Homo sapiens: one gene and its partners. The protein of the gene in region 1 purifies or fractionates together with the protein of each later gene. This does not show direct contact. Each region holds a gene or a part of one and is shown in the gene's direction. Other genes may lie near its edges.

Region 1 (4,054 bases):
GCATTTTATAACTTAAAAGAAATAGATGATTGTAACAGAAGAAAGAAAACTTTACATTGTGAGAAAATTTAGACCTAAAGCTTATAGTAATGTGAGGACGAAAGTCTATACTGTTTAAGTAAATAGGTTCTATGAGCAGCATCCAGGCTAACATCACACAGTGGTATTTTGAATTAAATTGTACTTGTGTTTTGTTTCCGTGTTTTGCTGCTGTAAGGAAAGAGGAAAGCATCCCCTTTCTCGGCCCTCCTCCCACGTCCAGGCTAATTTGCAGCATTTCTACATCTCAGAGTCCACCCTTAAGATCCTTGCCACCCATTATTTTGTTTCAGAACGCTTAATCCATCAAGGAAGGTTAAATTGGATTACCCCAGTAGGGAAGGGACGGGGGCTGTAAGCATGAGGGATTATCCCTGTAAAGGGCTCGTGGTGTGTGTGTGTGTGCGTCCTGCTAGTGTTGAATGACGGAGACCTGAGTTTGGATTCTGAATCCAGGTGTATTCGATGCCGCTCCGGCGTAGAACGGGTTAAAGATGCCCCCAGCCAGGTAGAGCCAGACTGGGAGTTGTGCAAGGTCTCAACCCCCTAAAAGCGGCCCCTCAAATTGAAGATGAGTAAATCATAGTTCGTAAATCAGAAAGATTATCCAGTACTACGTTACTCTGTTTATTTCCCTTTCGTCATCCCTGAGTCTTGGGTCAAGTCCATCCCAGCTCTGTCCTCCAGGAATCAAGGGAAATACGCAAACCCGCGGTGGGTTCGCAGCCGCAGGAAGGACAAATCTTGCCCCCGCCGCGGCGGCCGCCCCGCGTTAGCTGCCTAAGAGAATCTCCGTGGCCGGCCAGTACCCGCCTTGGTGAGGATTCTCCCTCCCGCGAGAACTTCTGGAATGCCGCCGGGCCAGATTTTGCAGCTGAGGCCTCCGACGCCACTAATATTGGGCCAAGCAGGGAGTGCTGCTCTTCCTTATAAGGTTTTAGCGAAAGTTAAGTAAGCCAATTAAAGTGCAAAACACACAGTCTGGAACAATACAGCGCTCTATAAATGGTCTCCATTATTATCATTATCCGTTAGTTATAACTGGGGATAAAAAAAAAAAAAAAACGACAAAAACCTGGAGAACCGGAAAGGTCTGCAAAAGGGGCGGAACGCGGGAACTTCGATTTGGGGAAGGGGTGGCGGGGGAGATCCCACACAAGCAGCCAATCCAGCTGTCCCGGGGAGGAAGAGGAGGAGTCAAGGCCCGCCCCTGGTCTCCGCACTGCTCACTCCCGCGCAGTGAGGTTGGCACAGCCACCGCTCTGTGGCTCGCTTGGTTCCCTTAGTCCCGAGCGCTCGCCCACTGCAGATTCCTTTCCCGTGCAGACATGGCCTCTGGCACCACCACCACCGCCGTGAAGGTGAGATGAGCCCTCCCAGCCGCAGCGGTTCGCCCTGCCGGATGCCTTCTCGCCCCCGCGCCGGGGGACCGCGCCTCCGGGGGCCATGCGCCCGGCCCGTGCGTCCCTTGCCGCCGCGGGGAGGGACTGGGGCGCGGCACTCGGGACTCACTTGCCGCGCGAGGAGAGGGTACGCTTGCAAATGATCCCCCTGCCGCACCGCCAACACACACACACACACACACACACACACACACACACACACACACACACACACCACCTTTTGGCTTATCTGCACCCGCACCCTGTAGGGCGTAGGCACCCCTTTAGAGAGAGAGGTCGTGGATGGGAGAGGCTGCACCCATGCCACCACCATTCCTGAGAACCACTCTTCTTCCAAGAAAGACACCCGGCTGGAGTCAGGAGGTGTCCGGGCGCCTGCAGCTTCTGTGACCGTCTCCTGGTGCCTTGCGGGACTCCAGCTTCCGCTCTCTGACTCTGCTTGTTGCCTGCGGCCCACGTGGGAGAACTGCTTACTTGCTCTTTTGTATGCTTCCGGCTTCTTTTTCCTCCAAACGTAGGCCTTCTCCGCGCTGAAGTTTTCCCCAGCAGCGTAATACTGTAAGAATTCTGAGACTTTCTTCGAAAAGGAGTACAGGCGTCCGTTTTTAGGGCTGCACTGTTTGGAGGCCTCTGGCTTGAAACTGCTTTGTTTTGCAGCCTTGCAAGTTAGAGTTCAATTTCCTTGTGCCCTAGGCCCTGAGAGGCCTTGATACAAGGGGTCATTGTGCGGTGGGAAGCTTTGTGCTGAGGAGGGCACGAGTTCTGAGAGTAGCAGCTGGCTTCCCTGGGGTTTTAAACACTTCTCTCCTGGTTAGTATTCCGAGAGAGAATTACAGCACGTAAAGAAAAATTGATGATAAAACTTAAGACCTCTTCTAGGCAGTTTATTACTGGCTAAGAATGCGTTCTTGTTTGATTTTTAGAAATTTTTGGCCTATGGGATAGGAAGGTCTGCGATCTTCTCCAAAGCATCTCGATTCCCTACACTCGACTGCAGTTTTCCCGGGAGAAGGCGAATTTCTGCGGTCAGTGTGTAATCAGCCAGATTAGTTTATTACGCCCTTGCAGGTTTAAATGAGCCACTTAGAATGAGAGGAATGGTGAAGGGTGTTGCATCCAGACTTATATATGAAACTTATTTTGTCATTTTGAAAAGAATCTTGCATCCAGCAAATATTTATAGAAGGCCTCTCCCCTGCCTTCATTGTTTGGCGGAAACAAGGCAGAAATGGTTTTCATGAAACTCGTGTGAAGTATGTGACTTCTCTTAGGTGCTCATCTATAAACTGAGAATTTTACTGCAGAATTTGCTAGGAGGGCTAGAATTATATTGTCTATGTTGCACATGGTAGAAGCTTATTAAGTGGTAGTGCTTATAAGTGGGGGAACTGAGATTAATTTTGAATGATCTTTTCCCCAAAAATTATTAAGTTATTGTGTTAGGTATCATTAGGCCACAACTTTTCACCTTATCCTTGCAGGAATACACTTCAAGCGCCATTAAAAATGGAGAAATGGTGTTTAAAACAGTCTTACTTTAATCTGGTTAGCATTCTCCCTGCCACAGGGTTTCCCTTCAAATTAATGCAGTGCATTTAAGTGCAGAATGGGCAATGGGATTCTCAGAGACCTGATGTAAATATTGAATAGTGTGTATTTTTGGTCTTGGCAAGCTTCTGGATATAAAATTAAGAGGTACATATGGTGCTAGGACTGCCTGCTGATTTCTCTTTTAATTTAGAACAGATGACAGCTTTGCCGTAGAGATTCCATGATGCCAGCACCGTATTCCCCAGACTTCTAAGGCAACATTCTGTATAGAAGATGTGAGGTGCCAGTGTCCAGAGCAAAATAGGTTAATAAAAACCACATCCTATTCCCAAATTATAGAATGATGGGGCTGGAGTGTTCCTTCAAGACCATCCATATAGCCACACAAACCCGTTTTGCGGGTGTAAAGTTGAGGCCCAGAAAGGTCAGCTAAGTATCCAGAATTACACAGCTGGACCTAGATAATGACAGAATTGGGCCTAGAGCCTGGCATTCCACCAACTAGATGTGAGGCATTTCTGAAATCTGAAGTGTGGTCTCTGCCCTGTTTTCTTGTGACCTAATGCACAATTAAAATGAGCACTTGATAGAATGTCCATCTTGAAGAGGGAGGCAGAGGGTATGCAGAAAGCAGGCTGCCTCCAGTGCCCACTGCACACCACCCAGGTATAGGTATAGGAGGCACATGTGTGTCTGAACCCCATTGGTGTCACTGGCAGGTCCTTTGAGAGGTTGCTGGATTTAAATACAGTAACATGTAACACACTCAGCCCAGTTCCAGGTACTCCTTTAATGTCAGCCCAAGTACCTCTCTTCTTAAAATAGAGATATTAACGGGGTGGATCTTAAATTCATTCTCAATTTTAGAGGTGCAGTTAACTCATGCAAGTGAAAGATTCCACTGAGTTTTGGATTGGCAGTATATTTGGCATATCTTTCAAATCTAGCCATCTACTGGTGGAATCCTATTCAAAAATATTTATTGAATACCTGCTAGACAATGGGGATGCAGCTTTGAGTAAGCGAGGCCTTTATTTATTTTCTTCAAGTTTATATTCTAG
Region 2 (2,744 bases), on another chromosome or scaffold:
ACTTGTTTTAAAAAGTAAAGTTGTTTTTGAGCTATAAGCATTGATATATTTACTTTTTATATATTTCAGGACCACATTTTAACCCCAGCGCTATTCATAACTTTTATGACAATATTGGATTTGTAGGTCCTGTGCCACCAAAACCCAAAGGTTAGTGTATCCATTAAATGTGAAAACTGTTACTTTTGAAAAGCAAAATTTTAGAAAATTTTTCCTGTTCAGCAACCTTCCTCTCTAGAATTGCTTCAAACTTTGGCATTCTTAAATGAATTCATTAAGAAGATGTTTGCTTATTTTCATTTACATGCTTGGGGTTGGGAAGGATGCAAAGATGTAATATTCTTAGCTTTTTAAAAGTAATATGCACGAGCTTAGGAAACACTATGTACTCCCAACCAATAATAGCAAGTCTTGGTTAAAAAACAATTACTAAGTACAAAAATTTGTATCATTTAAAACTTTAGACAAATGATAAGGAAGATACCTTAGGGAAGTTCCCCCCCCCCATGAGTATTTAGTTTAATTTATATATAACTTTAAGTAATCAAAATACCCTAAATTCCAGGTGAATAGTTTTCTACCTTCTATCATTTTACATCATTGATATTCTCAGAATATATGCACACCAAACTAAGACATTTCAAAGTATGTCTGTGTGTTTTGATCCAGGCATTAAAATGTGTGTAGAAATGGAAACAGGTACATAAATATCACTGCTGAAGGTAAAAATATAGACATATTTACAGATTAACACTTAACCGTGGTATATAATTTACTTTCAACTCTAATAAGAAAGTTAAAAGGTAAAAATGTGTTAATGGATACATAATATTAAAAGAAGAAAACTGCAAGAACACAAAAGTGTGGGAGGGTGGAGGTTGTAAAGATGCAGTAGTATTTTTGTATGCATTTGAAGTTAAGTTGTTATCAACTTAAAATAGAAGAGTATAACCAAATATAATCAAAGTAAATCACGATTAAACGTTGTCGAATAACAAGACAATAAGAGGAAAAGAGGAGCAAAACAGTTGTCAAATAGACAGGAAGCAACAAACTGCCAATAGTAAGTCCTCACTTATTAGTAATTACCTTAACTGGAAATGGATTAAACTCACCACTCACAAGGAGTTGTATGAATGGATTTTAAAAACAGGATCTGGCAGCAGCCAATGGGAGGCCCCAACAGCTCGTGCTGGCGCACACAGCGGGAGGGGAGGGAGCCCAGGATGTGCACGCACCCTCTCCCTCATCCACCGCTGTCACCTCCTGCTGCTCTTCCTGCTGCTCGTGTACTCGTTAGGTGCGGACCCGCCACCTCTTTTGTGAAGCAGCAGCTGAGGAGACTCCGGTGTTCACCATGGCCAACGAAAAGCCCACAGAAGAAGTCAAGACTGAGAACAACAATCATATTAATTTGAAGGTGGCGGGACAGGATGGTTCTGTGGTGCAGTTTAAGATTAAGAGGCAGACACCACTTAGTAAACTAATGAAAGCCTATTGTGAACCACGGGGATTGTCAGTGAAGCAGATCAGATTCCGATTTGGTGGGCAACCAATCAGTGGAACAGACAAACCTGCACAGTTGGAAATGGAAGATGAAGATACAATTGATGTGTTTCAACAGCCTACGGGAGGTGTCTACTGAAAAGGGAACCTGCTTCTTTACTCCAGAACGCTGTTCTTTAAAGACCAAGATTACTGCATTCTCAATTAGAAAACTGCAATTTGGTTCCACCACATTCTGACTACTACAGTATAGTTTTCTCTATTCTTTTGTTTCCCCCTTCCACATTCTTTTATTATACATGAAGTAACTGGTATGTGTACACAAGCATATTGCTTTTTTCTTCAAACCAAACAGCCAATGGTATGTTTTGATTGACATCAAGTGGAGACAGGATGGGAAAAAATACTGATTCTGTGAAAATACCCCCTTTATCCATTAGTGGCATGTTCATTCAGGTCTTATCTTTATATTCTAGTAAGTTATTTTGCTCTCACTGTTTTAACAACAACAAAAAAAAATTCTCACATACCTTGTTCAATTGGAGGATTTTCATGTTTTTCATTTATCATTGTAAAACCAAGGACAATTTTATAACTTTTGTGTACATAGCTGTTACATGTAGGGCAATCTGTCTTTAAGTAGGGATAAATTACTCTAAAAAAAAAAGAAAGAATCCTAGAAAGTTTTTCCTTCAAGTCAGGCTTCTTATTTAAATAAACTTTTTGTTTAAAATGAAATAAAAATAAAAACAGGATCCAATAATATACTATCTACAAGAGACTCATTTTATATTTAAAGACACACATAGGCAGAAAGTGAAGGGATGGAAAAAGATTTTATATAAATGGTAGCTAAAAGAAATCAAAAGTGGCTATAATTATATCAGAAACAATAGATTTTTAAGTCTAAAACTTGAGACAAAGATTATTATGTAATGGTAAAAGGATCAATTCCACAGAAAAATATAAAAATTATAAATATATACACACCCCACATCAGACTACATTAATATGTAAAGCAAATAATGACAGTTCTGACGACAGAAATTGACAGCAATAGTAGGAGACTTCAATACCCCCCTTACAATAATAGAATATCCAGGCAGAAAATGAATAAAGAAACAGCTGATTTGAACAAGCACACACGGAACATTCTGTAGGATAGATCATATGTTAGTTCACAAAACGAGTTTAAACAAACCTAAGAAGATAGAAATCATTCCACGTATTTTTTCTAA
Region 3 (3,500 bases), on another chromosome or scaffold:
AGAGAGATGATCTCCTGAGGCCTTGTCCAGTCCTAGGATCAATGGTTCTGGGTCAGGAGAGGAAAAGACACTGCTCCCTAAGAAACCCCAGTCGTCAAGCTGGGGGGTGTGCCCACGCACAGAGCCAGGGAAGGCATTTACCCCAGCTTCATCAGAATCAAGGCTCCTGGAGGGTTATGGAGCGGGTCCTGGGTGTCTTCCTGCAGACCGGGGGAGAAGCCAGCAAGAAAGGGCAAAGAGGGAAGGATCTAGATTTTATAGGCCAGGGGCCTTCTAAGTGGGATGGATATACCCCAGGACGCACTGAAGATGATCTTTTGGGGGTACAGGAAGAAACTATTGGACTCCTTATTAAATGTACTTTTAATGTCATATTTTAAAGGTATATTTCTGTTTATCATGGTAAATACTCAATTTTTCTTTGGTTATGGGTTGTGTATGGGATCAATATATATATATATATATATATATATATATATATATACTGCAAACTGCCATATGACATCACCTTATCACCAGCTTTGTGGGGCCAGGAGCCTTGTCTGTCTCATTTTCTGTTCAACCCCCAACTTCTACCAGTGGGCCTGGTTTGTAGGAGGTGCTCAAATAAATGTTTATGGAAAAACACGCCCCTGCTTGATGACTGATTTTCTTCTGATGTTGGGTAAGTGACTTAACCTCTCTAGTTTATCTCCTGGCTATAGAAAGAGGAGTAAAGCACAGTTTGAAAACCAATAGTAGATGGTTCCATTTGCTGAGGTCACTAAAGAAAGCATGAAAGCCACTTAGTGCATTTTACCCCCAACCATCCATAGGAGCCACGCCCTATGGGAGGGGGTGCAGGAAAGAGGCATATGCAGTAATTTTCTAAAAAGTGTAAAATTATGACTCATGCAGATACAAAAATGATCATGTGCTGTTCTACTTATTAATCAATGACCACACCAGGCCGATGTTATAACCAGCTCAAAAGACACATTTGTATTGAAAGAAATGTGCAATTAGAGACAAAACTCTTTTTTTACCTGAGGGGGTGGGAAATCAATTGGACCTTTACAAAATAGGGCAAGGAGTATGTATTAGAATTACTTTGTGTTACCATCAATTATTTGCAACTTACTGACCTGTAAAATCACTCAAAGACAATGAAAGTCTCGAGTCAGACAACCTGGAGGGTTTTCCTTTGAAGTACAGATTCTTTCCCATAATACCTTGGAGGCTGGCAGCCCTTATCTAATGGAGAAATGATAAATCCACAGTGGTTGACCAAAGCCAGTCAAATCAAGGTGGTTTCAGAGCACCCTAGCGGGGGAATACCTTCTGGCTTGTTAGAAAAGGCGGCATTTGAATCCAGCAGATAACAGTGGTTCTCAGCCTCCTTGGCTGCCATTAAAATCACCTAGGAAAGTTTTTAGAAATTACCAAAGGCCAGGCCTCACCCCAGCAGTTGAGTCAGAATCTCTAAGGGCTGACCTTAAATCTTTGGTAGTTTTGAAAAATTCCCCAGGTTCTGTTAGTGAAGCTAGAATTGAAAAGCACTGGTATAGATTCTGGAAAGCTGGATTAAAAATGTTGGTGGAAGGCGTTCCTGGTTTAGCAGGGAAGACAGGGCAAAGAGGAAAGTGGTGATGGCAAAGAAGTCAGTAAGGAGAACCAATGGCCTCGACTGCTGAGCTTAGAGGCCCAGTATTAAGGGGCACCATTGGAGACTTGTGAGCAGAGGAGTGCTGTGGCTCAGGCTGTAGCCCCTCAGGCACTCCCCTGAGGCAGAGGTCTGGGTGGGTTTTTTTGCATGATTTTCCATATTATTTCTTTTTTCTCAAATCACCCTCCCACCACACCTGGTTTCACCCCCTTACGCTCAACATCTCCTTTCCCTCAAAAGTGTACTCTGTTCCTCCACAGCCCAAGCTACCTTTCGATGACAGAAATGCTTTTTCTTACCCTGGTGTTACTATTCTTCCTGGCATGCCCCTGCCTCCATTCCATTGAATCCAGATTTTGACTGTGCACCTCTATCAGCCTGCACCCCTAATATTTTCTTTAACTTTATACATGTATAACAAATAAAAATGGGACATAAAAGGGCAAGATTAAAACATTTGGAAAGTGGTGATACTCTTGTCCTGCACCCCAGTGGATTGTCATACCCATTACCCCTTTTTGGAGACTACTGCTGTAATAATGATGATTGTGGCAACAGAAGTCACCGTTTGTTAAACATTTAATCTGTACCTGGCCATGCTAAGTGTTTTACCTGCCTTATTTCATTGAATCTTCACAAAAACCTTACAAGAGGGTCATTTCAGGATGAAGAAACTGAGGCAGAGAAATTCCATAACTTGCCCAAGTTACTGAGCTCGGAATTTGCATGGTCAGGATTTGAACTTGGGCATCGACCACAAATCCTGCATTGATTCTAATGCCACATTGCCTCCATTGTAAATGTTTGGGCTTATTATAATAAAAGCCACCATTTATTGAGCCTTTACTGTGTGCCACGCACTGTGCTAAGTGTTTTCCCCCCGTTACTTCATTTATTTCTCAGTACCTATAGGTATTTCTATCTGCATTTTGCGGATGTGGAAATTGAGATTCAGTTTAAGTAACTTACTTACATCACAAACTGCTGGGCAACATCTGTGCCTGAAGGCCCATGCCTTCACATGACTTGGATAAAACCCTTCCCCTATCCACATCTCTGTGGTTGGGCAGTGGTGAGCCGTTCCTTCTAGAGTCAGCCTGGAACTCTCGAAGGGGAAGGAGGAAAACGTGATTGATTGCAGGCAAAAGGATGAGGCAAGGGGTGGCCACAGCAGCACAAAGCCACCCAGGCCATTCATTCTGCTCCTGTGTGGGTTTCACGAATGATCAGTCATGATAAGTCGTCACAGTATATCTCATCTAGATCTGAGAGAATCAGGGTTCCTGGGAGGAAAGAGGCACAGGTCTGGAATGACCCTGTTTACTAGTCTTGAACAGCTCTTTCAACCAAGGTGATGAATGTTGCATATTGGCGGGTGGAGATGGGGAGGAATCCTGTGGCCTGGGAGATGACCCTCCTAGGACTGATATTCTGCTGTGAAAATCCTGAGTTGAAGTCTCTAAAAGCCTCTAACTATAGATCCTACCAAAGAGGGAGTGATGTATTGTCCCACTTTAGAGATGAAGAAACTAAGGCTGAGAGAGGGATCTGGCTTGCCTGAGGTTACATGGGGGCAGACTGGGAACCAGAACCAGGGTCTTATTCTTTGGACTCTTCCTGGTGTCCCATTGCAGCCAAGACCCACAGTTGTGTGGGGACTTGTTATGATCGAGGGCTGCTAGGCAGAGATGTTGGCTGCTTCCTGGGCCCTGGCAAGTCACTTTCTCTTTCTGAGATGCCTTTACCCCGTCTAGAAAATGAGGGACTTGGAGTCATGGATTATTAAGGGCCCTTGTGGGATTCAGAAACACTAGATGTAAAATATTCAGCCAATTTGAGCAGTATGGTCTAGGTT
Region 4 (3,500 bases), on another chromosome or scaffold:
AAAATCAACGGGACTTTGTGCACAGACTGTAGAGTCATACAAACCTAGTTTTGAATCTAGTTTTTCTCATTTATCAAGCCATGTGACCTTGGGCAAATTACTTAACCTCTCTGAATCTCCCATTTTTCATCTATTAATTGGGAGATAATGATAGTACCTACTTCATAGGTTGTGAAGATTAAATGAGATAACACAGTGCCTAGAACATAATTGCTTTCTTTCAGAGCTTATTATTTGTGATCATTAGATAAAGGGATTAATTGTAAGGAGAAATAACTTTAAGATTATCAGGTAACTGCTGATTCTGGTTATATTATTAGCCAAGATGAAGAGAAGGAAAAAATGGCAGGTTTGGAAAGTAGCCAGGAGGTAAGGGAAATGTGGAATCACAAGTTCACTTTAAGTCATATGAAATTTGAGATGATCAAGGAATGACCAACTAGAAATGTTCATGAAATAGTTAATATATTTAAAGTGCTTAGAAAAGTGCCTGGCCCAGAGTAACCAATATATACATTACTTATTGTTATTATTAGCAATAGCAACTGAAAATGGAAGGCTGGAGCTCTAAAGATAAATTGAGGCTAGAAATAATATTTTCCCTAATGTCTAGCCTCTCAATGGCCAGTGTGGAGCTGGATATTATTTCTCATCCATAGTTTTACAGCGAGAAGAAAACAGAAAACTTGGCAATGCCAAGTTCAGTAAAGATGCTGAAAGCTGTCAGAGGTGGAATAACAGGAAATGTTTCCAAAAGAAGGGGCAGAATTAGCTATGTCCATCTTCTCTAAGGTCAGAAGTTGATGACAAGATCAGAAGTTGGTCTGAAAGGCTATGGTAGCAGTGGGTTGAGCCGCCGTTGGTAAAACAATGATGTGAAGACAACTAAAAAATGACTTTTGGGCAGAGGAAGTAGTTGTGCTGAGGATGGGTATTTTGTTTTGTTTTTCGAATGGTTGGCACAGAAGTATGTTGGTGGGCAGAGGAGTAGTGAAAAGCAAATGGTTAAAGATAAGAGGAGGAGAAAAAATAATCAGTCTAGCAAAGTTCTAGGGGAGATGTGGACAGATGCCTTTTGAGGGGAATACGGAACATCTCTGTCTTTCTGAAAGAGTGTACTACTCTGGGCCAGGCGCGGCGGCTCCCGCCTGTAATCCCAGCACTTTGGGAGGCCAAGGCGGGTGGATCATCTGAGGTCAGGAGTTCAAGACCAGCCTGACCAACATGGTGGAACCCCGTCCCTACTAAAAATAAAAAAACAAAGTAGTTGGGCGTCGTGGCGGGTGCCTGTAATCCTAGCTACTTGGGAGGCTGAGGCAGGAGAATCGCTTGAAACCAGGAGGCAGAGGTTGCAGTGAGCCAAGATTGCACCATTGCACTCCAGCCTGGGTGACAGAGCAGGATGTCATCTCAAAATAAAATAAAATAAAATAAAAAAATAATAAAAGTGTACTATTCATACTGAATTATAGTTACTTACTCTCCATATTCTCATTATATTACATCTTATTATTTACAGCCTTAGATTAATTGCCTCCACCTACTTCATTCATTACTTCTATCCAGTTAATCTGATTTTTCCTACTAAATGACACCTCTTTCAAATGTTACATACCGACTTCTTTTCTAATTTCTCCTGCAATATCAGAATGTATTCTATTTTTATCAGCAAATTTTCAGTTTTTCTCTAATAAAGCTACCAAAAAGAGGATGAGACTAGAATTCAAAGAAAGAGCCAAAAGGAAAAAAAAATGAGATTGCTTAATCTTATTCAGTTATTCTAATATCCTTTATTAAATTCTCTAAAGTAGAGTATTTATCCAGTGAAGTAAAATGCAAGCACAACACTAGAATGAATGTGTAGTCTTAAGCTTAGCCCCTAAAAACCAACGAGGAAGGGAGGAAATTATTTAGACAGCAGGATAGGGGAGATGGAATGGTCACTAGAACCTCCACAACCAGTTAAAAATGGTCATTTCCAATTTAAATATATCTCTCAACGATTTATTGCTTTGTTGTTAACGTCAACTATTACTTAAGTAGCTGATGTGGGGGATAGGGGAGATGGAACGATCACTAGAACCTCTACAACCAGTTAAAAATGGTCATTTCCAATTTAAACATATCTCAACAATTTATTGCTTTGTTGTTAATGTCAACTATTACTTAAGTAGCTGATGTGGTTTTTTTAAAACTTTAGCATACTGTGTTTCTTTCTAGGACATAAACTTCTTTTTTTATTTTATTTTCTTTTTGAGGCAGGGTCTCACTCGATCACCCAGGCTGGAGTGCAGTGGTTGAATCTCAGCTCACTGCAACCTCCACCTCCTGGGCTCAAGCCATCCTCCCATCTCGCCTTCAGAGTAGCCAGGACTAAAGCACGCACCACCACGCCCAACTAATTTTTGTATTTTTTTGTAGAGATGGGGGTTTTGCCACATTGCCCAGGCTGTTCTCAGATTGCTGGGCTCAAGAGATCCACCCATCTTGGCCTCCCAAAATGCTGGGATTACAGGTGTGTACCAACTGTGCCTGGTCCTAGTAAATAAACTGTTAACAAAAACTTCTTCCCTTCTTCCACTTTAAGACAATATAGGCCAACTCTGGGTGCATTGCCTATGAGTTAGCCCTGCTCCTCAAGGAGCAGTTAAAAAAACAAAAAAGGGCCGGGTGCGGTGGCTCACACCTGTAATCCCAGCACTTTGGGAGGCCAAGGCGGGCGGATCACCTGAGGTTGGGAGTTCGAGACCAGCCTGACCAACATGGAGAAACCCCATCTCTACTACAAATACAAAAAATTAGCCGGGCATGGTGGCACATGCCTGTAATCCCAGCTACTCGGGAGGCTGAGGCAGGAGAATCACTTGAATCCAGGAGGCGGAGGTTGCAGTGAACGGAGATCACACCATTGCACGCCAGCCAGGGGAACAAGAGCAAAACTCCATCTCAAAAAAAACAAAGAAAATATCACATGTTTTCTGGGTATTATACTGAGTGAATCGAAAGCCCACTATTGAGTCTGTGTTTTAAAAAAGAAGGGAGAAGCAACCCAAGTTTTAAACAACTGCTTTAGTGAATCAAATAGACTTTATTTTATTTTATTTTTGAGACTAGGTCTCACCCTGCTGCCAGGCTGGAGTGCAATGAAGCGATCATGGCTCACTGCAGCCTCAAACTCGTGGGCTCAAGCAGTCCTCCCACTTCAGCCTCCCAAGTAGCTGGGACTACAGGCATGTGGCGCCACACCTGGCTAAGTTAAATTTTTTTTTTTTTTTTTTTTTTTTTTTTTTTTTTTTTTTTTTTGGTAGAGACGGGGTCTCACTATTTGCCCAGGCTGGTCTTAAATTCCTGGGCTCAAGCAGTCTTCCTGCCTTGGCTGCCCAAAGTGCTGGGATTATAGGTGTGAACCACCATACCTGGACAGACTTTTAAAATATCTCCATATCTCAATTTTTATCTAATTTATATCAGTGCTTAGATTTATGACTTTTTAGGACCTG
Region 5 (3,500 bases), on another chromosome or scaffold:
GTAATATAAAACTTGCCCTTTGGTGTTGAATTCAAATTCACTTCTGCACTATTTTCAATCTGGGTTTACAGAATTATAAACCCTTGAATTAGTCCGTTTAAGGTTTTTATTCTGTTAAATAGTATTCAGAATGTGTGTAGTACATTAGCAATGGCAACATTTAAACTTCTTAATTAGTTTTATTATGTTTAGATCATCTGTTTTTTAAAGAGAACTTTTCTGGGAATTAACATTTATGAATTGTTCACTTTTTAATAAACAAATATCACACAGATACAAACAACTTAATGTTTTTTTCAATTTTTTTCTTTAGAAGCAGCATTAAGAGGTCTTCTGGGAGCCTTAACAAGTACCCCATATTCTCCCACCCAGCATCTAGAGCGAGAGCAGGCTCTTGCTAAACAGTTTGCAGAAATTCTTCATTTCACACTCCGGTTTGATGAACTCAAGGTAGAATTATCTATTGGCCCTGATTGTTACGAAAATCATGAATCTTTTAATGAGTACTAGGAGGAAGAGCCGGGAAACATTGTTAAAATGTATTTAAATGATGTCTGCTAGACCTTAATAAAAATGCAAAGCTGGATTTAGAAATTAATGACGGGTCTTTTGATACATGGCAAAGAGCAAATTACTGAGTATTCGGTCTCAATCTTTTTTTTTTTTTTTTGAGGCAGAGCCTTGCTTTGTCACTCAGGGTAGAGTGCAGTGGCGTGATCTCAGCTCACTGCAACCTCTCCCTCCTGGGCTCAAGTGATTCTCCCACCTCAACCTCCCAAGTAGCTGGGATTACAGGCATGTGCCACCACGCCTGGCTAATTTTTGTATTTTTAGTAGAGACGGGGTTTCACCATGTTGGCCAGGCTGATCTCGAACTCCTGACCTCAGGTGATCCACATGTCTCAGCAGTCTTCATTTAACCTTGTTTAAAAATTAATCTCCGAAACAAAAGGTTGAGCTTTTTTTCTAATACTTTTTCTTTTCTGCTCACACCCTCTACCCCCGTTTTTCAACATTCTTTTATATTAAAATGTTGCTAAAATTTCTTTTTTCTCCCTTCCTCCTTTCCCGCTTTCTTCCTTTCTTTCTGTTTCTTTTTTCCTCTGTCATTGTTTATAGTGTTTGGAACTATAAATACCTTGTTGTTAAAAAGAATGAATGTAAAGGAATAAGCACTAGGTCTCATATCAAGAGACCTGAGTTCCAGTTTATACTCTGCCACAGTAACCCTAGTCATGAGACGTTGGGCACGTCCTTTGATTTTTCAGGGCCTCTGGTACCCTGTCTAGAAAATGGAAGAGCTGGATTCCAAACTTCAGCATTTTATAGTTGTATCACAGTCAGATTTGTATGTAAAATTCTAGTTTGAGGATTGCTCTGTTGACCATACCTACATACTTTTATCGTAATAACTAAAAACAAGTGCCTAAACAGTCCTTTTTGTTTTTGTTTATTTGATAAACAAGCTTTTAGTACATTACCTGAAATTAACTGAAAAGAAAAGGGAAAGTATACTGCCTGTGGTCTTTCGTTTTATATGTTCAGTAAGGACTAAATACAGTTATAAGCCACCTTGGATTATACCAGTGCTAGTTCTTAAAATGATACTATGAATTATGGAATGTTTTATACTAATTAAAACTAAAGATTTTTTACTTAGTTTTTTTACATTAGCATTTAGTACATAACATTTTTTTTCCACAACTGTCTTCTTCAGATGACAAATCCTGCCATACAGAATGATTTCAGCTATTATAGAAGAACATTGAGTCGTATGAGGATTAACAATGTACCGGTAAGTTAATGCTTTGAATTAGGGGGATGGTAAGAGTAACTTAGTGCTCAGCCTGTTCATTTTATTATTTTGTTTGTTCATTCAGATAGTGTTAAAGCTAGTAATAAAGTTAGTAATTATGGGCAGCCATAGCTGTAGGAGGAAAAGCAAACTGTAACAAACCATATGGTGTTTACCTGTTTTTCTTCACAGTCTCTTAAATTCCCACAACTACTTCAACAAAATTGCTTATCTGTATAACGTTGATCCTTATAAAATTTCGCGATGTACTCTCATTTTAACTGTACAGAAATTCTGTGAATTCATAGTTACGAGTTTTTTGTCTCTATATTCTTAGAATGGAAGAGTCTTGGAGAGAAATTGACGTGGGTTAATTTCTTGGAGAGAAATCTTGAACCCAAGTCCGTTTTCCTCCAAGAAATTAATGGTTAATGCTGGCAAGAGGTGATAGTGAGGTCATGGCCTGTTAACACATCTGTGCCTGATATAGCTGTTTGAGAAAATGGCTTTGTGCCTGCTCCTTGGCTAGTATAGCATTTCTTCTGGCTTCTTTAGGTCTCTTAACTTCTTACCATCCTCCTCTTAAGCTGTTTATTACTCTTTTCTACCTCCAAGGAACTAAATACCATAAGTAAAACTAGAGCGGAAGAAAATATTAACTTGTTCTCTGTGTTTCTGAGAACCTTATAATTGGTCTGAAAAATTTCAAAGATCAACCCTTGTTTCAAATAGATAGTTTAATAGAGAAATACTGTAACTATGTAAGGAGTAATAAGTGGCATAAGATATTTAAAATATATATATCAAAGACTATCATTCATTTTCTTTTTCCTTGAAAAAATATTTTAGGAAGCACTTGCACTAAGGCACTGAGTTGGAGGAAAAGATTCCTCTTTATGAAACATCTGTAATTTGCATCAATTTGATTTTTGCATAGACCAGTTCCTCGTGTGAGACTGACCTTAACATCTGTCTTTTTCATACCTACCATGTAAAATAAGATAAAAGCAAAAAGCAAAGCAGCCAATCCTATACTATACCCATCCTTGCCATCACTTAAGGCTAAAGACATTAGTCATCTTGGTTCTCCCTTTTACCCTCAATAATTACAGGTAAAATCCAATTTTTTTCAAGTGAAATATCTCTGAAATGTCTTCTCCATCCCCCTTTCCATCTCCTCCTCCCACTGTTCCAACAGAGAGCCTAATTCCCACTCTTTCTGGCAGTCACTCTGCACAGCATAACTCATTTTCGGACCTACAAGTCTTTTTCCATTTTGGTACAATCTGCCCACGATTATCAGTTAATTTTCTTTAGGAAACTGACTTAGTTGTCATTCCTTTCATCTAACACACTGAATGGCTCCCCATTCCACATGGAAGAAAAATATGAACTTAAGCTAGCATTTATGGCACTATACAGTCTGACCCCAACCTGTATCTTTCGTTGGTTGCAGCCCCTTATTACACTGAATATGCTGAATTACTCTTTAGGGAGTCATTTGAAAACATACTCTTTCCCCTGCCAGATTGGAATACCTTGTTTACCTGCCCAATATGACCTGCAAAAGGATAACTCTTCTCCTTAGTTTCTTCTGTTCCAACTTAATGTTCTCTGACTCCCTTTTTGTGTTATCACCTGTTAGAATCTTACCATGGATGTTGTATGGATACTTATTGTTCATAATGGAGGACGGTACAATTTT
Region 6 (3,500 bases), on another chromosome or scaffold:
ATGTCAGCTTGTATAAGATACAGGTGCCCTCAGTAGACAGAGAAACATTAGTATAGATTCTTTTCTAATTATTAATGCTTTTAGTCATTTTAAAAAATATATAAAATAGAGGAAGATCTTTTTTTACATTGGAACATAAATGTTCATTCAGATGTACATAGGCTATATAAAGTGTTTTGGTTTGAGATTCTAAACATTTTCCTTTTATTAGTGCAGATAATTAAAAATTTAATGAATTAAAACTGATAGAAATTATAACAATATTATGAGCTTGTTATTTAAAAAAGCAAAGCTGTATTGAATAAAGTAAAATATCCCATTGACTATTTTTCCTACCTATGTGGTTCCTCTCTTTAAAATATAAAATTGATTAGGTGTTTTTAAAACAGAAAAGAATAAAGAAGACAAAAATTGGCCAAAATTTTACTATTTAGATAACTCCTAACTTTTAAAAAGTAAAATTAAATTAATTCAGATGTGGATTTTAAAATGCCACAGTTAGGACTGAAAGGTAAAGATCTCCCCTCCCCAATGCCTGTGAACAAATCAGCCATTCTCAACAGGTCCATGTAATTAATTTCAGAAAAACATTGAAAATTTACTTACTCATCTGTTTTTCCCGCTTAAAAAGTTCTGTAAACACTTCTGCACTTTGCTTTCCACATTGAAATGTATTTATTCTTCCCTTTTTAAATGGTGAATAGTATTCCATTTTCTGGATGTTTATTTAACTATTCCCGTATGATAAACATTTTGTTTCCAGTGCATCTTTGCAATTAAACAGGATTGTCGTGATCACCTTTGTACATATACCTTGACAACTTTTGAGACTATATCTGCATTACTCTCTTCATGAGTTTCGTCAGCTTAGGCACACATTGGCAGACATGAGACCGATGGTTCCCTCACACCATCAACAGCACTGGGCATCATCAGACTTTTTAGATTTTGCCATTTGGATAGGTGAAAAATGATTGTTTATGTCTTTTGTTTATTTTTCTTTTAGTTGGTCTGTTTTTTATTGGTTTGTATAAACTCTATAAATTAGGGAAATCAGTTTTTTATCATGTTTTGCAAATATCGTTCCCAGTTAATCTCTTGACTTCATTTATTTTCTTATTCTACAATGGTCTTTTACTTTTTGTGGGGTTAAATGTATCGCTTTTTTTCTCTTTTGTGACTTGGATTTTGTATCCTGTTTACAAAGACCTTTTCTCTTCTGTAAAATTACAAATAAATTTGCTCTTCTGGAACTTCATTTTTTCTTCCATTTTGGACATTTGACCTTTCCATTATTTATTTTGAAGTAAGGCATGAAATAAGTGTATACTTTTTTTTTGACAGTTCTCATACCATTTATTATTATAGTTCCTCTTTTTTTTTTTGCACGTTAAGTGGTATATATTATAACAGATATTAGGAAAATGCAAATTAAATCCACAATGAGATACTACATTATAACTATTAGAATGGCTAAATTGGTAAGACTGAGAAGCTCTAAGGTGAAATGTTCAATAAATCATATTTAAAACTTCTTATCTGTATTAAGTAAATATTATTTTGTTTAATATTTTTTCTAGTAATTTCTGACATTCTTTTTTTTTTCTTTTTTTTTTTTTTTATTATACTTTAAGTTTTAGGGTACATGTGCACATTGTGCAGGTTAGTTGCATATGTATACATGTGCCATGCTGGTGCGCTGCACCCACTAACTCGTCATCTAGCATTAGGTATATCTCCCAATGCTATCCCTCCCTCCTCCCCCCCCCCCACCCCACAACAGTCCCCAGAGTGTGATAATCCCCATCGCAAGAACAAAAAACCAAACACCACATATTCTCACTCATAGGTGGGAATTGAACAATGTAGTTCCTCTTTACTAATAATTTGAACCATCATCTTTATCATAAACAGATTTCTTGCTCTTTTTCTATCTATACCAAACTGATTTAATGATGTGTGGTTTCAAAATAGGTTTTAGTATCTCCCTCTCACATTCTCTTTAGGATTTTTGCAGGTGATTCCTTAAAATTTTTTTTCCCATAATCTCAAGAAAAATATTAGGATGATTTGAACCTACCTAAAACTTAACCTGTATCTTTTAATAAGCATTAAGCTTTTTTTTTTTTTTTCTGGAATGCTGGGATCGTGTGATCTGTGGGACATAATACTTTAACTTTTAATTCTTTATGAATCATCTTAGGAGGATGTCATGCACTGTGAGAATGTGCCATATCAAAGATTCAAAACAGAGGAAGTGTGTTTAGATAATCAAATCACAGCAAAATTGGTGATGAAAGTTAGTTTATGGTATTACATCACAGGCCACCTTGTAATAAGAAAAATGGCTGAAAGTAATTTTTTTGCAGCTATATCTTTACTAAATAATTCTGATAAGCTTAGAAGCTTGATTTTTTTTTTCAGTCCACAGAAAATTACCAGTGTAAAGAGGAGCTGTGATTACTGAAAGAAAAGAAACCAAAATGTAAGAAGCTGACCCAAGAAAGTGAAGGGCAAAGAGCCATATTTACCTTAAAGTTTCAGAGGCCTCAGGCAATAATTAATATGTATAAGCGTAACCTTGAGCTTCACGAAAAGTTTAAACTTGGTTACTTTTCTCTTATTTACAAAGTCAGAGACATGTATAACATATTTTAGGAAGATTTCAATTTGACATATAAAAAAGAATGAGCATTTTGATACTTAGGCCTAAAGTAAGTATCTGAAAAATACTGAAAAATGGAGGTATTAAAAAAAAATTGTAGGCCAGGCATGATGACTCATGTCTGTAATCCCAGCATTTTGGGAGGCCAAGGCAGGAGGATCTATCACTTGAGCCCAGGAGTTCAAGACCAGCCTGGGCAACATAGCAAGACTTCCATCTCAACCACAAAAAAATTGTAGGTAGTAAACACTTTAAACATAGTACAATAGACGCTCATTATGGCACTGTCCTTTAGGGATTTGGAATTGCATTATTGGTGAAACCATAGCATAGAGGCTAAATGTGTTGGCTTTGGAATTAGATCTTCCAGGTCTGGCCTTCTTACTAACTAGACACTTTGGGTGAATTAAGCACTCAGAACTTGAGTTTCTTCAATTGGTGAAAATGGGAATGATTGTAATACCTACATAATAAGTGTAAACTGTGTACCATTGTGCCTGGCATATGGTGAGTGCTAGTAAATATTAGCTGTTGTTACTAATCAGCATCCTCATAAATTTGTTTAGAAGCAAGATTACTTACAGAGCAACTAGTCCAGCTCCCTTATTTTATAGATAAGGAAAAATTAAGTGTGAAAGCCCTTGACCAGTATCATAGTGCTATTTGAGATTGAAATTTAAATTCAGTTTTCCTGAACTTGGATGAGGGTTGGTTGGTTGGTTTTCCGCTACACCATTGTGTTTGCTAATGAAGTCATCTTGTGCTAGCTGTTACCTCTAATAAATTATTCTTTTTGTCCCACAACATCTGCTTGGCAAATTTCTTCTTCTTCCTG
Region 7 (3,500 bases), on another chromosome or scaffold:
TAGTAATTCTACTGGTATGGATCCTGAACACATGGTGATGTCATGCCTGTTCCCCCTTTGATGACTGGGAGTTAGGGAGGTGTGGTTTACATTGGAAGGGCCTGGAGGTTCAAATATATTCTCTGGGAAGGCGTCACTTTATGTGTCATTCCTCAACAGCAAGAGTGAAGAGGTATTTCACACAGCATGAGAGATCTTTTGGGATATTGTAAGTAAAGTACCTGTAATGACTTGAGACATCACAAGTGTCTGCTGCTCGAAGCCTAATTTTCTTTTTTTTCTTTTTTTTTTTTTTTGAGATGGAGTCTCACTCTGTCGCCCAGGCTGGAGTTCAGTGGCCTGATCTCGGCTCACTGCAAGCTCCGCCTCCCAGGTTCACGGCATTCTCCTGCCTGAGCCTCCTGAGTAGCTGGGACTTACAGGTACCTGCCACCACGCCCGGCTAATTTTTTTTTTATTTTTAGTAGAGAAGAGGTTTCACTGAGTTAGCCAGGATGGTCCAATTTTTTTTTTATTTTTAGTAGAGAAGAGGTTTCACTGAGTTAGCCAGGATGGTCTTGATCTCCTGACCTCGTGATCCGCCCACCTCGGCCTCCCAAAGTGCTGAGATTACAGGCGTGAGCCACCGCGCCTGGCCTGGAAGCCTCATTTTCTATCAGAGCAGCCGTCACTGCATTTATTTCAAGTGGCTGCTGACGATTGTATTTGGTGGGTCTTTCCTTTAGCAATGGCTCTCTAATGCCAGCATGCATCGGAATCACTAGGTAGGCCTGTTAAAGCACAGACTGCTAAGCCCCAACAGCAGAGTTTCTGAGGTAATATGTCTGAGGTGAGGCCAAGAATTTGTATTTCTTACCAATTCACAGACCATATTGATTCTGCTGGTCTGGGAACCCCACTGTAAGAGCCACCACCCAGAGCAGTGGGAGTCAGGGAGGCAAGCAACAAACATTTACAAAATCCACAGAGCAAACCCAACCTCACCCCTGATATTTCTCCCTTGACTGTTGCAATATTTTGGTCTACCTTCAGTGGAGAATTGGAAGCTAGGCCAAAGTTATTATTCAGGGAAATAAGACATGGTTTCATACACTACTGCTTACTTTCTCTGTAAGTCCAAGAAAGATGGAAAAATCCAGTATTCTAAGAGTTACAAGGCTGAGTCAAGACTGATATATAATAGAAGTATAATAGCTCTGAGACAAAGAACTTTGACTGCAAGACTGATTTTTTGTATTAAAAGTAGAAATAGAAAGTAGAGACTGTCCAATCCAAGTTGACACACCCAAATGACTTCTCTTTTACCTTTTTTCTTTGCCTTTATCCTTTTCATTTACTTTTTATTTTCATAGACATACATAAGATACCTTGGAAGTAATAAAGAATTTAATGGAACAAAATCCTTGTTAAAGTATCTTTATAGCATTAAGAATTCCTGGGTTGGGGCCTTACAATGCAGAACCTCCAGTCCTACTCCCCAGGAGTTATAACTTAGTAATATGGGGTGCAGGATCACACTTTGGATAACATTACTTTGTGACAATGTAGGAAATAGGGAGCTCTGTATTGTCAAGTAAAGCTGTCAGTTGCTAGGTGAGACTCTTGCTGAAAACACTTGCCAGGTGAGACAGAGAAAGCTACCATACCATCAGCTCCTTTTTTGTTTAAGACTAATATTTTCAAGGAGTTTTAGGGTCACAGCAAAATTGAGAGGAAGGTACAGATATTTTCCATATGCCCTCTCTCCCCCACAAATGCACAGCCTTCCCCATTATCAACATCCCCTACGAAAGGAGCACATATTGCAAGTAATCAGCCTACATTGGCACATCATTATCATCCAAAATACATAGTTTACATTAGGTTCACTCTTGCTGTTATACATTCTATGCATTTGGGCAAATGTATAATGACGCATATTCATCATTGCGGTGTCATATCAAGTACTGCCCTAAAAAGCTTCTGTGCTTTGCCTTTTCATCCCTCCCACCCTCAACCCTGGCAACCACTGATCTTTTTACTGTCTCAAGAGTTTTGCCTTTTCTAGTATGTCATAAAGTAGGAATCATACAGTATGTATGCTTTTCAGATTCCACCAGCTCTTAGATAACCAGACTCTATCTCATTTTTGCTATCCCTCCATCCAGAAAATTCCCGACACTTAGTTGATCCTTCTTTGAGGAATGTTTTTCTGTTCTTGGAAGAATGGCCTGGAGCAGTGGCTTTCAAGCTCACTTGAGGAGCCCCAGCCATCTACCAAAGCATCCAGGGTGGCTGTCAGGGAGCAAAGCCATTCCAAGCTGCAGGGCTCTGGGCTGACTTCCAACTTGGAACAGAGCTTTTCTAATTATCGCTTTTACTTTTGACTTTGTGGAGGATATCTCTGAAGAAAGGAGTTATTGCTTAACAAATATTACTTAGTACTTACCACATGGCAGACATGGGGATGTTTTTAAACATTGAAAACCAAAGCTTTAGAGTAGTATCTGCTTGTCCATCTGGCTGCCTCACAATCATCCCAGGAGACTGCCCCAGAATCTGAATATTTAAGATTCTTGGGTAATCCTGAAGATCAGTTTAGCTTGCAAATCACCAGGCAACACCTATAACTCTCAAACTTGCCTGAAGATATGAATCACCCAGGAAGCTTATTAAAAATATGGACTCCCAGAATTTACCAAATCATTCTCTCAGGAGAATGACCTCAAAATGCATATTTTAAAAGAGATGCCCCCCTGCAAACTCCCATAAATAATCCAAGAAGCTTGGGAAAGCAGGCTGTGTATGGCCATTTTTTATACTTGCACAATTTTGAAGGCTTTGTCATTAGGCAGATATGACACTTGGTTGTGATACGACTAGTTTTCTTTTCTTGTTTATAAATTTATTTCATTTATCTTATTGTTATTTAGAGACAGGGGTTCCCTCTGTTGCCCAGGCTGGAGTGCAGTGGTGCAATCATAGGTCACTGCAGCCTGAAACTCCTGGGCTCAAGCAGTCTTCCTGCCTCAGCCTCCCAAAGTGTTGAAATTACCGTTGTGAGCCACTGTGCCCAGCCTTTTGTTGTTTTATACTTCGTGCACATCACAGAGCTTCCTTAACCTCAGCGCTTTTTTATGCACTTAAATTTTTGACCCCCAGTTGCAGAAATCAGCTTCTACAAGTGGCCCTGACTCCTGTGTGCCACTCTCATCCAATGGTGCTTGATGTGGGCTTCTGAACTGGCAAAACAAGACAGGGAAGGCTGGAAAGAGGCCCTCTTCCCATCTTGTCAGTCCAAGAGTGCTGGAATTAGGAAACATAACAAGAATAACATAACAAGAAAGTGAGCTAGATGTGAACTGGTTCCAGAAGGCAGATTTCTGGTCATAGTGTTATTTAGAATTTTGGCAATCATTAACTTAGTGTACTAGTCCATTTTTGTTGCTTTAAAGGAATATTTGAGACTGGGTAATTCATAAAGAGGTTTTATTTTAGCTCACGGTTCTGCAGAGTGTACA

Evidence for each region.
Region 2: the proteins of MTAP (region 1) and SUMO4 fractionate together in Homo sapiens (co-fractionation; one large-scale study listed by BioGRID). This does not show direct contact.
Region 3: the proteins of MTAP (region 1) and ANXA6 fractionate together in Homo sapiens (co-fractionation; one large-scale study listed by BioGRID). This does not show direct contact.
Region 4: the proteins of MTAP (region 1) and NT5C3A purify together in Homo sapiens (affinity purification with mass spectrometry; one large-scale study listed by BioGRID and IntAct). This does not show direct contact.
Region 5: the proteins of MTAP (region 1) and CYRIB fractionate together in Homo sapiens (co-fractionation; one large-scale study listed by BioGRID). This does not show direct contact.
Region 6: the proteins of MTAP (region 1) and MTPN fractionate together in Homo sapiens (co-fractionation; one large-scale study listed by BioGRID). This does not show direct contact.
Region 7: the proteins of MTAP (region 1) and TAGLN3 fractionate together in Homo sapiens (co-fractionation; one large-scale study listed by BioGRID). This does not show direct contact.

Annotation. Positions count from the first base shown.
Region 1 is NC_000009.12:21,801,382-21,805,435, forward strand, and holds the start of MTAP (S-methyl-5'-thioadenosine phosphorylase), read left to right. Parts: upstream 1-1,254; 5' UTR 1,255-1,367; coding exon 1,368-1,400; exon of another isoform or gene 1,401-1,485; coding exon of another isoform or gene 1,486-1,569; intron 1,570-4,054. UniProt on the Homo sapiens protein: Catalyzes the reversible phosphorylation of S-methyl-5'-thioadenosine (MTA) to adenine and 5-methylthioribose-1-phosphate. Involved in the breakdown of MTA, a major by-product of polyamine biosynthesis.
Region 2 is NC_000006.12:149,399,035-149,401,778, forward strand, and holds SUMO4 (small ubiquitin-related modifier 4), read left to right. Parts: upstream 1-1,227; 5' UTR 1,228-1,357; coding exon 1,358-1,645; 3' UTR 1,646-2,244; downstream 2,245-2,744. Other genes in the region: TAB2 (TGF-beta-activated kinase 1 and MAP3K7-binding protein 2), read left to right, coding at 70-150. UniProt on the Homo sapiens protein: Ubiquitin-like protein which can be covalently attached to target lysines as a monomer. Does not seem to be involved in protein degradation and may modulate protein subcellular localization, stability or activity.
Region 3 is NC_000005.10:151,151,280-151,154,779, reverse strand, and holds part of ANXA6 (annexin A6), read left to right. Parts: intron 1-3,500. UniProt on the Homo sapiens protein: May associate with CD21. May regulate the release of Ca(2+) from intracellular stores.
Region 4 is NC_000007.14:33,056,277-33,059,776, reverse strand, and holds part of NT5C3A (cytosolic 5'-nucleotidase 3A), read left to right. Parts: intron 1-3,500. UniProt on the Homo sapiens protein: Nucleotidase which shows specific activity towards cytidine monophosphate (CMP) and 7-methylguanosine monophosphate (m(7)GMP). CMP seems to be the preferred substrate.
Region 5 is NC_000008.11:129,852,561-129,856,060, reverse strand, and holds part of CYRIB (CYFIP-related Rac1 interactor B), read left to right. Parts: intron 1-313; coding exon 314-450; intron 451-1,717; coding exon 1,718-1,795; intron 1,796-3,500. UniProt on the Homo sapiens protein: Negatively regulates RAC1 signaling and RAC1-driven cytoskeletal remodeling. Regulates chemotaxis, cell migration and epithelial polarization by controlling the polarity, plasticity, duration and extent of protrusions.
Region 6 is NC_000007.14:135,967,360-135,970,859, reverse strand, and holds part of MTPN (myotrophin), read left to right. Parts: intron 1-3,500. UniProt on the Homo sapiens protein: Promotes dimerization of NF-kappa-B subunits and regulates NF-kappa-B transcription factor activity. Plays a role in the regulation of the growth of actin filaments.
Region 7 is NC_000003.12:112,005,422-112,008,921, forward strand, and holds part of TAGLN3 (transgelin-3), read left to right. Parts: intron 1-3,500.